3 separate regions of the Homo sapiens genome follow, and regions 2 and 3 are each linked to region 1. The links come from fine-mapping of genetic effects on gene expression. A gene starts in region 1. Each other region holds a variant in brackets. All regions are shown on one strand. Distances are from middle to middle. Region 1 holds the start of PABPC4 (poly(A) binding protein cytoplasmic 4). Region 2 has its middle 26 kb from the start of HEYL. Region 3 overlaps MACF1 (microtubule actin crosslinking factor 1).

What was found. PIP is the estimated chance that this variant, and not a neighbour inherited with it, causes the effect.
Region 2: its variant is the best candidate, but not a certain one, in a credible set for the expression of PABPC4 in unexposed skin (GTEx, PIP 0.86).
Region 3: its variant is the best candidate, but not a certain one, in a credible set for the expression of PABPC4 in transverse colon (GTEx, PIP 0.80).

What each region holds. Positions count from the first base shown.
Region 1 is chr1:39,574,388-39,578,625 of GRCh38, forward strand. PABPC4 (poly(A) binding protein cytoplasmic 4) reads right to left here and starts at 2,403. Exons shown (of 16, transcript NM_001135653.2): 1 at 1,372-2,403. The coding sequence starts at 1,564. RefSeq lists enhancers at 1,088-1,207, 1,228-1,277, 1,778-1,847 and a silencer at 2,348-2,657.
Region 2 is chr1:39,611,494-39,615,731 of GRCh38, forward strand. No RefSeq gene overlaps it. Among named protein-coding and RNA genes, the nearest start is that of HEYL, 26 kb to the right of the region's middle. RefSeq lists enhancers at 287-456, 1,996-2,165. The variant C/T (reference allele first, on the strand shown) is at 2,081.
Region 3 is chr1:39,481,841-39,486,078 of GRCh38, forward strand. MACF1 (microtubule actin crosslinking factor 1) reads left to right here. Exons shown (of 101, transcript NM_001394062.1): 100 at 2,761-2,890; 101 at 3,698-4,238. The coding sequence ends at 3,954. Among named protein-coding and RNA genes, the nearest start is that of BMP8A, 7.7 kb to the right of the region's middle. The variant C/T (reference allele first, on the strand shown) is at 2,568.

The DNA.
Region 1 (4,238 bases):
TGACAAATCTGGCTGCACTTATTTATAGCAGGGAGAAGTCCTGCAGAAGTATGTGTTGGCAGACACACTGACCAATAGCTTCTGCTATCTCTAAGTGACACGACTTTTGTTCAAAAGTCAGTAAGGCAGACAACAGCTAATGTGGTACATTATCCCTTAAAAAGACCACACTCAGCTACCTTTGCGCTCCTATGGCCATGGACAGAACTCAGCTTGGAGCACACTGGATTGACAGTAGCAATACCTAGTCCCTCTCAACATGTCCAATTCTCTGGTCTCAGCCGCAACCTGGGCAGGTAGTAACTCTGGGCCTCAGACAGAAAACAAAGGGGGGACCCCAAAACTAGGGACCTGGAGATGCTTTGCCATAGAATGGCTTGTTTCTCCCAGTAATGATCTCTGCAGTTGTTCCCTTTTAATCTGGAGTCACGTGCAGCCTCTGATCAGGTTTCCTCTGGCCTCCCTCCTGCCACGCCTGCAGCATACCTCTCTCCATGCTCCACGCTAAGGCCACAATCTGAGGTGGCAGAGCACTGTGCTGGGAGTCCTAACTTGGCTTCCAACTTTTTGCATTCGTTCTCCTTCTCAGGAGTCCCATTTTCTTCAGATTAGATGAAATAAAAGGGCTCTGACTAGTGCAAAGCACTGTTACAGCTGAGGTGACAAATGACACCAGATTTTCAAGTGACGCTTCCCTAAACTACCTCCACGACACTCTACAGCACAGAGCCTGGATACCATTTGTCCAGAGTAAAGCACTTCTCCACTCCAGTGGCAAACACACAGACCAAGGAGGTGGCCTGGCACACGCAGCTTTTGTGGCACTAACCTAAGTCTCTGCGAAAGTTTAACGCACAGAAACCTTCCCCCTGCTTCCTGCCTGCCCTGACTGATCCTTTATCAGCACAACATCAGGTAGTCAAGGTTAGTAAAGGTGGCGGAGCGGGCAGGAGCTTTACAATGTAAAACTTTCGCGGGGAATTGTGTTTCAAACGTCCCGCCTTTTTGGCCAGCCTGTGAGGGGCACAAGCAAGGATCTCTAACAGCCCAGCCCCACTGACAAGGACCACACGCAGTGGAATGCCAGTGGCTTCACTCTAATCCTGTTTTACAGTCTCCTTGGTTTCCAACCCCACTACCAGCAACACTAATAAGTAGCCCAAGGTCACCCAGTTAGCAAGTGGTAGAAACAAGATTGAAACTCGAGTCATCTGATGCCAGGTCCGCGTTCTCAATCTCCGCACCCTGCTCCCAGCTTCGGTGGCAACATGCTGTCGTGATGCCGCCCTCCTCGGCAGGAGGGCCCTGCCAGAAGACGACTCCCGGGGTCCTCCGGGCTCCCACGCACGTGTGGGCACAGCTTCTACTCACCGTCGGCCGGCTGCTGGAAGTTGACGTAGGCATAGCCCAGGGAGCGGCGGGTGATCATATCGCGGCAGACCCGGATGGACAGCACAGGCCCCGCGGGGCTGAACTTTTCGTACAGCATGGCCTCGGTGACGTCCGAATGCAGGTCGCCCACGTACAGGGAGGCCATGGGGTAGCTGCTGGCCGCAGCGTTCATCTCCCCGCCCCCCACCACCCCGAGCCCCGCCAGGAGGACTTCTTATCGGGCCCGCCGCAGGACAAAGGGGCGCCTTCGGAGCCCGGGCCCGCGCCGCGGCTCACAGGTGGCACCGGCGCGGCGAGGACGAGCTGGAGTCGGCGGGCTTGGAGACGGGACGGAAACGGGAGGCGGGGGCCGGCTCCCACGGCCGCAGCACCGCAGACAAAAGGCTCTCCGCACAATACGGCCCTCCCCGCGACTTTGCACTTCTCCGCGGTCCTGGTGCGAAGCTCCAAATTTCAAAAAATCAAAGTAGGAAAAAAATTAAACGGGGAATCCCCTTCCGAAGGGTAAAAATCCTTTAAGAGGCGACCGGACGCTGCCCACGGCGGCCTCGGGGACACGCGTTTCTCTATAAATATAGGCCTCGGGCTCCGGCGGTTTAAGATTACAACCGCCGGGGCAGAGGGAAACCAAATCTTTGTGGGCGCCGACTCGGCGAGCCCCGGGCGGGCGGCGAAGGGCAGCACGGACACGTGGTGCGCCGGGGCAGGCGCGGGGCGCGGGGCTCGGGGCCCGAGCGGGGGGAGGGCACGGCGGGCCGGGCGGGCGGCTCACCCCCGGACCGACGGACGGAGACCGACGGACGCCAAGCGCTGCGGCGGCGGGCGCGGGGCAGGCCGGAAGCGTACGAAAGTGACTTCCCCGCGGGTTCTCCGAGGATTCGTTTTTTCTTTTCCTTTTTTTTTTTCAGGATTTTGAAGCGTTTTCAGATTTTTTTTATCTTTTTCTCTTTTTTTCCTCAGGCTGCGAAGCCCGAAAGCGGCGGAGGCGGCAGCGACCCGGGGCGGAGAGAGGCGGCCGAGGGAGCCACCGCTCCATTTATACCCGCCCGCCCCGGGCGCTGCTGGTCGAAGGGCGCCTCGCGACCTGGGCGCAGTCGTGCCCGCCCACTCGGCCCGGGGGCCCGAGGCGGGGCGGCCACGCGAGAGCGACCCGGCGCGGCCGCGCGGCGCTACAGCGACCCCTGGCGCCGGGAGGACCGCCCAGCTCGCGGCTGCGGGAGACCCCAGGGCCCCTTTCTATAACAAATAAATCTTAACACCCTCCCACCCATCACCCGGGAATGGAACCTAGGAGCCATTTAACCTGCACACACGCATGAGGTTTAAAATTAAATGGTATGGGGCTGGGTGCAGTGGCTCACGCCTGTAATCCCAGCACTTTGGGAGGCCGAGGCGGATGGATCATGGAGGTCAGGAGATCGAGACCATCCTGGCTAACGCGGTGAAACCCCGTCTCTACTAAAAATACAAAACATTAGCCGGGCGTGGTGGCATGCGCCTGTAGTCCTAGCTACTCGGGAGGCTGAGCAGGAGAATAGCTTGAACCCGGGAGGCGGAGGTCGCGGTGAGCCAAGATCGTGCCACTGCACTCCATCCAGCCTGGGCAACAGAGTGAGACTCCCTCTCAAAAAAAAAAAAATTAAATGGTATGCCAAATTGTGAAATGAAGGTGACATAAAATAAGTTAAAATAAAATAATAGGTGGTCCAATAGGTAAATGTCTGGGTCCAAATACAATAAAGATTTGAGAAGTTTTCAGGATACCGTTGACCTAGAGGTAGAATCGTCAGGAACTAGAAATGCAAGCAGTATCCATGGGTGATGGGATTTTCTGAAAAGATGAGCACATTTTGGTAAAGCTTCAATGAAACCAAACACAAGCATCCCCTCTATTGACATGCTGGTGGCATTCCCGGACATTTAGTTTGTGTTTAAGGGCACAGAAATACTTTCTGTTCCTATGTTTAAAGTTTCTTCTAGGCTTGGATAATTATAAAAAGACTTTTCATCTGCATGAGAGTCTGGCAGGTCATTTGAAAGTCGTATCACAGGCCAGGCGTGGTGGCTCACGCCTGTAATCCCAGCACTTTGGGAGGCCGAGGCGGGCGGATCACTGAGGTCGAGAGTTCGAGACCAGCATGACCAACATGAAGAAACCCCCGTCTCTCCTAAAAATACAAAAAGTAGCCAGACATGGGGGTGCATGCCTGTAATCCCAGCTACTCAGGCGGCTAAAGCAGAAGAATCGCTTGAACCCGGCAGGCAGAGGTTGTGGTGAGCTGAGATCATGCCATTGCACTCTAGCCTGGGCAACAAGAGCGAAACTCCGTCTCAAAAAAAAAAAAGTCATATCACTTTATAGGACTATGTTATATGGGACTGTCCACACGCATTACAAGATATATAGCATCCCTTCTTCCATAAGTGCCAGGAACCACCTTTGCCATCACTGTGAAAACCAAAAACAGAAATTGCCAAAAGACACAGACATCCCCCTTCAAAAGCACTGATTTAAGTAAATGACTAAAGAAATATGTGTATTTATATATTAATTAATTCAAATAAATGGTTAATCTGAGCCTACTCTATGCCAATGTCAATACAGGGGCTGGAGATACCATGGTGGACCAGAAGTCACTCCCTCTCTCATGGAGTTTATATTCTAATAACTATATTAAATCAAGAAACATTGGCTGGGCACGATGGCTCACACCTGTAATCCCAGCACTTTGGCAGGCTGAGGTGAGCGGATCACCTGAGGTCAGGAGTTCGAGACCAGCCTGGCCAACATGGTGAAACCCCATCTCTACTAAAAATACAAAATTAGCCGGGCATGATGGCACGTG
Region 2 (4,238 bases), 37 kb after region 1:
ACTGATTGGTGCGTTACAAACCTTTAGCTAGACTCAGAGTGCTGATTGGTGCATTTACAATCTTTTAGCTAGACACAGAGTGCTGATTGGTGCATTTACAATCCTCTAGCTAGACATAAAAGTTCTCCAAGTCCCCACCAGATTAGCTAGATACAGAGTGGTGACTGGTGCATCCACAAACCCCCAGCTAGACACAGAGTGCTGATTGGTGCATATACAATCCTCCAGCTAGACATAAAAGTTCTCCAAGTCCCCACCTGACTCAGAAGCCCAGCTGGCTTTGCCTAGTGGATCCTGTGCCTGGCCGTGGGCAGAGTTGCCCACCAGTCCCGCACTGCGTGCCCGTGTGCCTGCATTACCAAGGGTGAAGGGGCAGTAATCCAAAAGCAGTGGCTGCCAGGGGGACAGGCACAGTGGGTGGCTGTTTGTACTGGATATTGGCCATTTGCAATTTACCTGCAAATCCTTGTGGGCCTGTGCTTCAAAGGGGCCATCAAGTCACTGTGCAGTGGCGGTCAGTCACCCAGCTTTCTGACATCACAAGTTGAATGAAAAGCTTTTAGTCCTGAATCAACAGGAAGAGCTCTAAAGCCTGCAAGGGGCTCTGTCTCATTCCCAGCCCAGCTATAGAAACAGGCCTCTCAGCAGCCCTTTGGGGAGAGATTCAGTGGCACAAACAGAATTTGTGCCGTGCTGAGGGCATGGCTGGCCACTGCAGCCCCACAGGTGTCTTTCTTAGTGGGCACATGATCTCAATTAACTGGGAGGACTGTGGTTTTTTTTGGTCTGTTTTGTTTTGTTGTTGTTGTTGTTGTTGTTGTTGTTGTTTGAGACAGAGTCTCGCACTGTCACCCAGGCTGGAGTGCAGTGGTGCCATCTGGGCTCACTGCAAGCTCCGCCTCCCGGGTTCACGCCATTCTCCTGCCTCAGCCTCCCCAGTAGCTGGGACTACAGGCGCCCACCACCACGCCCGACTAATTTTTTGTATTTTTAGTAGAGACAGTGTTTCACCGTGTTAGCCAGGATGGTCGCGATCTCCTGACCTCGTGATCCGCCCACCTCAGCCTCCCAAAGTGCTGGGATTACAGGCGTGAGCCACCGTGCCCGGCCTTTTTTTTCTTTGTGGAACACATCTGTAACCTTAGAAGATGAAAAATTAATTAACCTCTGTTACCGGTGATGGAACTTTCTTCCTTAGAGTGTCCTTGATGAGGATACTTATGTAACATAACCTCAGGAAGATTTAGAACTAAGACTAGCATGCTAAACCAAAAATTTAAATCTTAGCATTGGCCGGGCATGGTGGTTCACGCCTGTAATCGCAGCACTTTGGGAGGCCGAGGCAGGCGGAACTCTTGTGGTCAGGAGTTCGAGACCAGCCTGACGAACATGGTGAAGCCACGTCTCTACTAAAAATACAAAAATTACCCAGGTGTGGTGCTGCGTGCCTGTAATCCCAGTTACTGAGGAGGCTGAGGCAGAAGAATCGCTTGAACCCGGGAGGCAGAGGTTGCAGTGAGATGAGATTGCATTACTGCACTCCAGACTGGGCTACAGAGTGAGACCCCGTTCTCATAAAAAACAAAGACAAAAAACCTTAGCATTAATATTTCTGTTCAAAGAAATAATCTAGATACATTTAGGGTTTTTGTTTTGTTTTCTGTTTTTGTTTTTGAGACAGGGTCTCACTCTGTTTCCCAGGCTGGAATGCAGTAGCTGGATCTCAGCTCACTGAAACCTCTGCCTCCCCGGCTCAAGTGATCCTCCCACCTCAGCCTCCTGAGTAGATAGGATCACAGGCGTGCGCAACCATGTCTGGCTAATTTTTAAATTTTTTGTGGAGATGAGGTCTCACTATATTGCCCAGGCTGTTCTCAAACTCCTGGGCTCAGGCAATCAGCCTCAGCCTCCCAAAGTCCTGGGATTACAAGTGTGAGTCACAGTGCCCAGCCCTAGTTTTTTAGATAAACAGATTTTTGAGAGAACTTAAGATTCATCCTATTTATAACTTGGATTTACTTGATGTATAAGAATGATTTAAATCTTCAGGAAGGTTTTGTTTATACAGATAACTGAGCGT[C/T]CTGTGTGGGAGCCGCGGGAGCTGCGTGAGGGGAGAAGAAAAGGCACACACACAATACCTTTAAGGGTAAACAAGCTTTATCCCACGTAAATGGCAATGCAGATATAATAAGCAAATGATATAATAAGGAAATTAATATAATAAGCAAATTGATATAAGTAAATGACATAATAAGCAAATTGCAATGGGAAGGGGAGAAGGGAAAAGAGATATACACATATTTACACTCACCAGACTATGGAGGATTCACCACCAGACTGGGAAGCAACAGCCTGGGCTCCAGAGTCGGCCACTCATCCATGCACAGATGAGGAGAGGTCTCATGAAGCTTCAGCGCAGCTGGGACCCTAGCTCTTTTTGTAACGAGTTGTTTGGCATGAGGTCCGGTCACGAGGGCCCTTCATTATCGGTCTCAAGGAACACAAAAAGGTCAACTTGTTTTTGCGATTGTGTGTTGTTTTTCAATAACTAATGTATAGGAATAGATTGAAATAGAGATTCCTCCGAAACAGTGCTGGATGAACGCCTCAAGGGGCTCACACAACCTGTTCAGGGACTTGGTGACCATTGTTTGTGTCCATGTTCAGTTGAGTTCAAATTTAATATTTAACTTTTCTTCCACACTGAGATACTGAAAAAGAAAATCAAACCTATTCATTTACGTTTGAAGATATAAAGTTGTAAAAAGCCCCTTAGAAGCATTTGCTAAAATCTAGATTTTCAAACAAGGTTTGTAAGCTGAATTTTATTTATACTTTTTAAATATTTTATTATTATTAAATTTTAATTTTTTGTAGACATGGGGTCTTGATATGTTGCCCATACTGGTCTCCAGCTCCTAGCCTCAAGTAATCTTCCTGTCTCGGCTGCCTAAATTGCTGGGATTACAGGTGTGAGCCACCACGCCTGGCCAATAGGTTGAATCTTAAGGTTAAGAAAGAATTAGTAGTGTTTTGAACTAGTAACTTTAATAAATAGAAACTAATTGTTTACTCCAGAAATAAACTTCCAAATAGTCTTTTCTGTGACTGAAAACCATCCTCAGGACTCAACCCAAATATGCATCAAAAGGTGAATGGATAAACAAATTGGGATCTATCTGTACAATGGAATACTACACAGCAACGAAAAGAAAGAGCAACTCATTCACAGAACTTGATGAATTTCTAAAGCATTACACTAAGCGAAGAAAGCCAGACTCAAAAGTTTCCCTGCTGTCTAATTCCATTTATACATAGACAAAACCATGGTGGGCCAGGCGTGGTGGCTCACGCCTGTGATCCCAGCACTTTAGGAGGCCGAGGTGGGCGGATCACAAGGTCAGGAGTTCGAGACCAGCCTGGCTAACATGGTAAAACCCTGTCTCTACTAAAAATACTAAAATTAGCTGGGCATGGTGGTGTGTGCCTGTAATCCCAGCTACTGGGGAGGCTGAGGCAGGGGAATGGCTTGAACCCAGGAGGTGGAGGTTGTAGTGAGCCAAGATTGTGCCACTGCACTCTAGCCTGGGTGATAGAGTAAGACTCCGTCTCAAAGCAAAAACAAAAACAAAAACAAAAAACAACCATGGTGGCAGAAACACAGAAACCAGATCAATGCTTGAGACTGGAGGAGGTGATTGGCTGCAAAGGGTTTAGAGGGAGTTTCTGGGTGATAGAAATGCTCTATATCACAATTATGAGGTGATTGCCTGAGTGTTTACACTGGCATGACTCAGCAAATTTTACATTTAACATTGGCGAATTTTGTTGTACATAAATTACACCTCGATAACACAGATTTTTAAAAATAATACTATCCTGGAGACTACCAGAACCCTCCGTATTCAACATGAGGCATGAAACAGGACCATTTTTTTGGAGAATAATGTGGGAAAGGGGAGGGGGCTGTGAGGAGAGAGGCCAAGTAATCACAGAGTCACCATGGAAACCAGGAGAGCCAGCCGGGTGCAGAAGTAGAGTAGGTTCCCCCACTCAAAGTCACCGTGATTGAATGACTCTTTTCTTTTTCTCTCTTTTTTTTTTTTTTTTTTTTTGAGACAGAGTGTCCATCTGTCCCCCAGGCTGGACTGCAGTGGCGCAATCTCGGCTCACTGCAAGCTCCACCACCCGGGTTCACACCATTCTCTTGCCTCAGCCTCCCGAGTAGCTGGGACTAC
Region 3 (4,238 bases), 93 kb before region 1:
AGGGATGCACAAGAAGTCAATGGCTATGAATGAGCTGCTGTTTTGAGGTTCATTTCACTTCAAGCTAAAACTCCAGTTCAGAAATATATCTGGTTTAGAATATGATCTGGGGACCTACTGCCACTAAACTACTAGACTCACCCTGCTTATCTTGCTTTTCTTCTTTCCTTAATGGCTCCAGTTTCATAAAAATCTCAGTTCTATTTTAAATTTTAGATGTTTAATGATGTACAAATTCTCATACAGTTCTGATAAATCAGGGCTTTTGTTCTGTCTTAAGGTTTTATTTTCTGTTTCATTTCATTTTGAGGCTTCATCTTTCCTTACTTATTGGTGTTCTGTAGCCAGGCCATCTCCTGACTTGGAATTCTAGCCCGGGTTCTAGCTGTGGTCTTCCAGCAGCAGTGCGCAGGAACCTTAGCTTCTGAAACTGGTGTTCTTCCTCCTATGTGGCCAGGAAATTTTGTGCTTGAGTGTTAATCACTTTCTATCGCTTATGCTTTTTCTTTATAAATTTAAGAAGTACAGCAAACAATGAGATGGATTGCTTTTCTCTTCTGTTTGCATAAACGTCTTAAAGGTCCTGGAAAACAATTTACATAATTGATTTCAAAGAAAAATTAGAATGGCATGCTGTAGCATGTGGCATAAGTAATGTTTTGGGGGTTTTTTTGTTTGTTTGTTTGTTTGTTTTTTCATTTTTTAAAAAGCAAAGTAGAGACAAGGTCAAATAATGGATGTTTAAAACATTTAAGGATCAGCCTGGTCAACATGGCAAAACCCCATCTCTACTAAAAATACAGAATTAGCTGGGTGTGGTGGCAGGCGCCTGTTGTCCCAGCTACATGGGAGGCTGAGGCAGGAGATCACTTGAACCTGGGAGGCAGAGGTTGCAGTGAGCCAAGATTGTGCCACTGCACTCCAGCCTGGGCAACAGAGTGAGACTGCCTCAAAAAAAAAAAAAAAAAAAAAAAACCCCACACAGATTTAAGGCTGGACATGGTGGCTCACCCCTGTAATCCCAACACTTTGTGAGGCCGAGGTGGGCAGATCACTTGAGCCCAGGAGTTCAAGACCAGCCTGGGCAACATGGAGAAACCCTGTCTCTACAAAAAATACAAAAATAAGCCAGCCACTAGGGAGGCTGAGGTGGGAGGATTGCTTGAGCCTGGGAGGTCGAGGCTGCAATGAGCCATGAAGTATGCCACTGTGCTCCAGTCTGGGTGATGGAGCAAGACTCTGTCTCAAAAAAAAAAAAAAAAAAAAAAAAAACACCCACACATTTAAAATACTCTTTTTCCTCCAGTTAAGCCTACTATCTAAAAAACCAAAAAAAATCACTCAAATAGGAAACATAGCACCTATTGGTAGCAGTGATAATAATATGTAGCTCTTTTCCAGTTTGGGAAATGCTTCTATTCATCATTTATTCATGCAAGTTTTTATTGAGTTCCTCTTCTGTGCTGTGCAGAACACAGGAAGCAGGGGAGAGAATAGAAGTGTACAAGCAGTGTTCTGAGTAGTGAGACAAGACCTCTCTACTAAGGTCATCCTTTCAATAGAGCCCCTGCAGGGAATGAGGGGGTGAGCCACACGTGTATCTGGGGTAGGCTTGGGGTGTGGTGATTGTGCAACAACAGTCCAGGCAAAATGAACAGCAAGGGGACAAGACTGGTGGACCCTCACTGGGCCATTGGTGGAACAGCAAGGAAGCTAGTGTGGCTGGGATGGACTGATGAGGAGTGTGGTAGAAATGAAGTCAAAGAGGCAGGATTTAATCCCTGATTTCCCAAGAGAGAAGCAAAGACACAGGTGTTAATTTCAATCAGTCCTGGAACCCAGACTCAAACCCAGGTCTCCTGGTTCTTCATGCACAGACTTGTTCCTGATGTCTCAGTCCCACAGTCGTGTGCTTCTCATAGTTTATTTGATCCACAAGTTAAGTAATTTTATCTGCATTTTACCAGTAAGGATAATGACTAAAAGATCTTACTAAAGTTACTGCACCTACTTAGTGTTAAGAGATTGGGGCCAGGTGCGGTGGCTCACACCTGTAATCCTAGCACTTTGGGAGGCTGAGGTGGGCAGATCACAAGGTCAGGAGATCGAGACCATCCTGGCTAACACGGTGAAACCCCGTCTCCACTAAAAAATACAAAAAAATTAGCTGGACGTGGTGGCGGGTGCCTGTAGTCCCAGCTACTTCGGAGGCTGAGGCAGGAGAATGGTGTGAACCCAGGAGGCAGAGCTTGCGGTGATCCGAGATTGCACCACTGCACTCCAGCCTGGGTGACAGAGCGAGACTCCGTCTCAAAAAAATAAAATAAAAAAAGATTGGAGTAATACTTGAATCTCCATATCAAATAGGTGGGCTAAAACTCATTTCAAATTTTTAACCCCAAAATCTTGATACCTAGTATTATTTGAATTTCTTTTTCCTTTACTCATTCACCATAATTGTTTGTTGTAACTATTGTATTCTTACTGAGGATTTTTTTTTTTTCATTTCTAGGGGAAATTAGTAAAACAAAAGGTATTTGAAGACATTTTGAAATTTTTATTTGGAA[C/T]ATAAAACTTTGATTTTGGGAATTATCAAAATATATGACCTAGGATACTTTAAGAGAAATCTTTGTTTTCCTGGACTTTTAATTTGCTTTTCAACTAAGCAAATATAAGGAGGTGTAAGGAGACCTTTTAAAGTTGAATTTCTGGCAAAGATTTTACCAAGTAAAATGTGACCTTTTTATTATTTTTTTTAAGGTTATCCCATCATCAGGTAGCAAGTTGAAACGACCAACACCAACTTTTCATTCTAGTCGGACATCCCTTGCTGGTGATACCAGCAATAGTTCTTCCCCGGCCTCCACAGGTGCCAAAACTAATCGGGCAGGTAAGTACCTGCCCCGTGACCTACAAGCCAGGCTGAGAATTTGGAAACAACAGCCTATGTGGAATGTTTCACTGCTCCCAAGGAGCGGGTAATGAGAGTGGCACTTAGTGTGATGCCCAGAAAGACAGACCTGCAGATGCTCAAGTGACCTTTACTTTTTCTGTCATTACAGCTAGCTTTAAGCTTTCCTTCTGAGATGAGATGCTTCCACAGCCAAAGCTGGGCCATGCGTTCTCATCAGAAATGATCACATTTGAGAGAATGTAAAAGGAAATGTGGGTCTTCCTCAGACACCAGTCCAGTGTTGGGATGAGCAGCTTGCTAGTAATTTTTCCAACACGTCATACTTACTATGGCTGCTGTTGAACCAAGAAAGGCAGGGGAAGATCACATCTGTTCTCCTGCTACTGTTCCTCATGGGAACCTAGGAATCTTCCTTCATTTCCTGGCTGGCTGCTTCCCCTCATTTTGCCTCTATCCATCCTGCCCATGGATTAGCCCGGCTGGCAGGCTCACCCACCTGTGCTGAGGTGGTTGAGCAACCTTGCTTGCCTCCACTTTGGGGCCATGGAAGGTGACAGTGCTGCTGATAGAGTGGCTTTCTAATCCCCAGGAGGCAGCTTCTCAAGTAGAATCACAAAGCCAGAAAAGGCTTCAGCAACTTCTGTATGGATGAGGAAACTGGGGTGCAGAAAGGCTGTGAGATTTGCTTAAGATCACACAGGATCAGAACCCTAGCTTCTGCTCACTTGTTCTTCCACCCCATGCCATCTCTATTAAGTCTGCTGTTTTATTCTTGAATTCCAGACCCTAAAAAGTCTGCCAGTCGCCCTGGGAGTCGGGCTGGGAGTCGAGCCGGGAGTCGAGCCAGCAGCCGGCGAGGAAGTGACGCTTCTGACTTTGACCTCTTAGAGACGCAGTCTGCTTGTTCCGACACTTCAGAAAGCAGCGCTGCAGGGGGCCAAGGCAACTCCAGGAGAGGGCTAAACAAACCTTCCAAAATCCCAACCATGTCTAAGAAGACCACCACTGCCTCCCCCAGGACTCCAGGTCCCAAGCGATAACACTGTCTAAGCACCCCCAAGCCACTATCCACTTTGAATCCTGCTCCATACATTGGGTGTATATTTATTCTGAACGGGAGAAGTTATATTGTTAAAAGTGTAAAAGAATAATTGTGTTATGAAGCTGCCTTATTTTTTTTCTTTTTGTAAGTTACTATTTTCATGTGAATATTTATGTAGATAAAATTTGCCTCCTGGTAACCCTGTAATGGATGGGGCCCAGAAATGAAATATTTGAGAAAAACAAGTGAAAAGGTCAAGATACAAATGTGTATTAAAAAAAA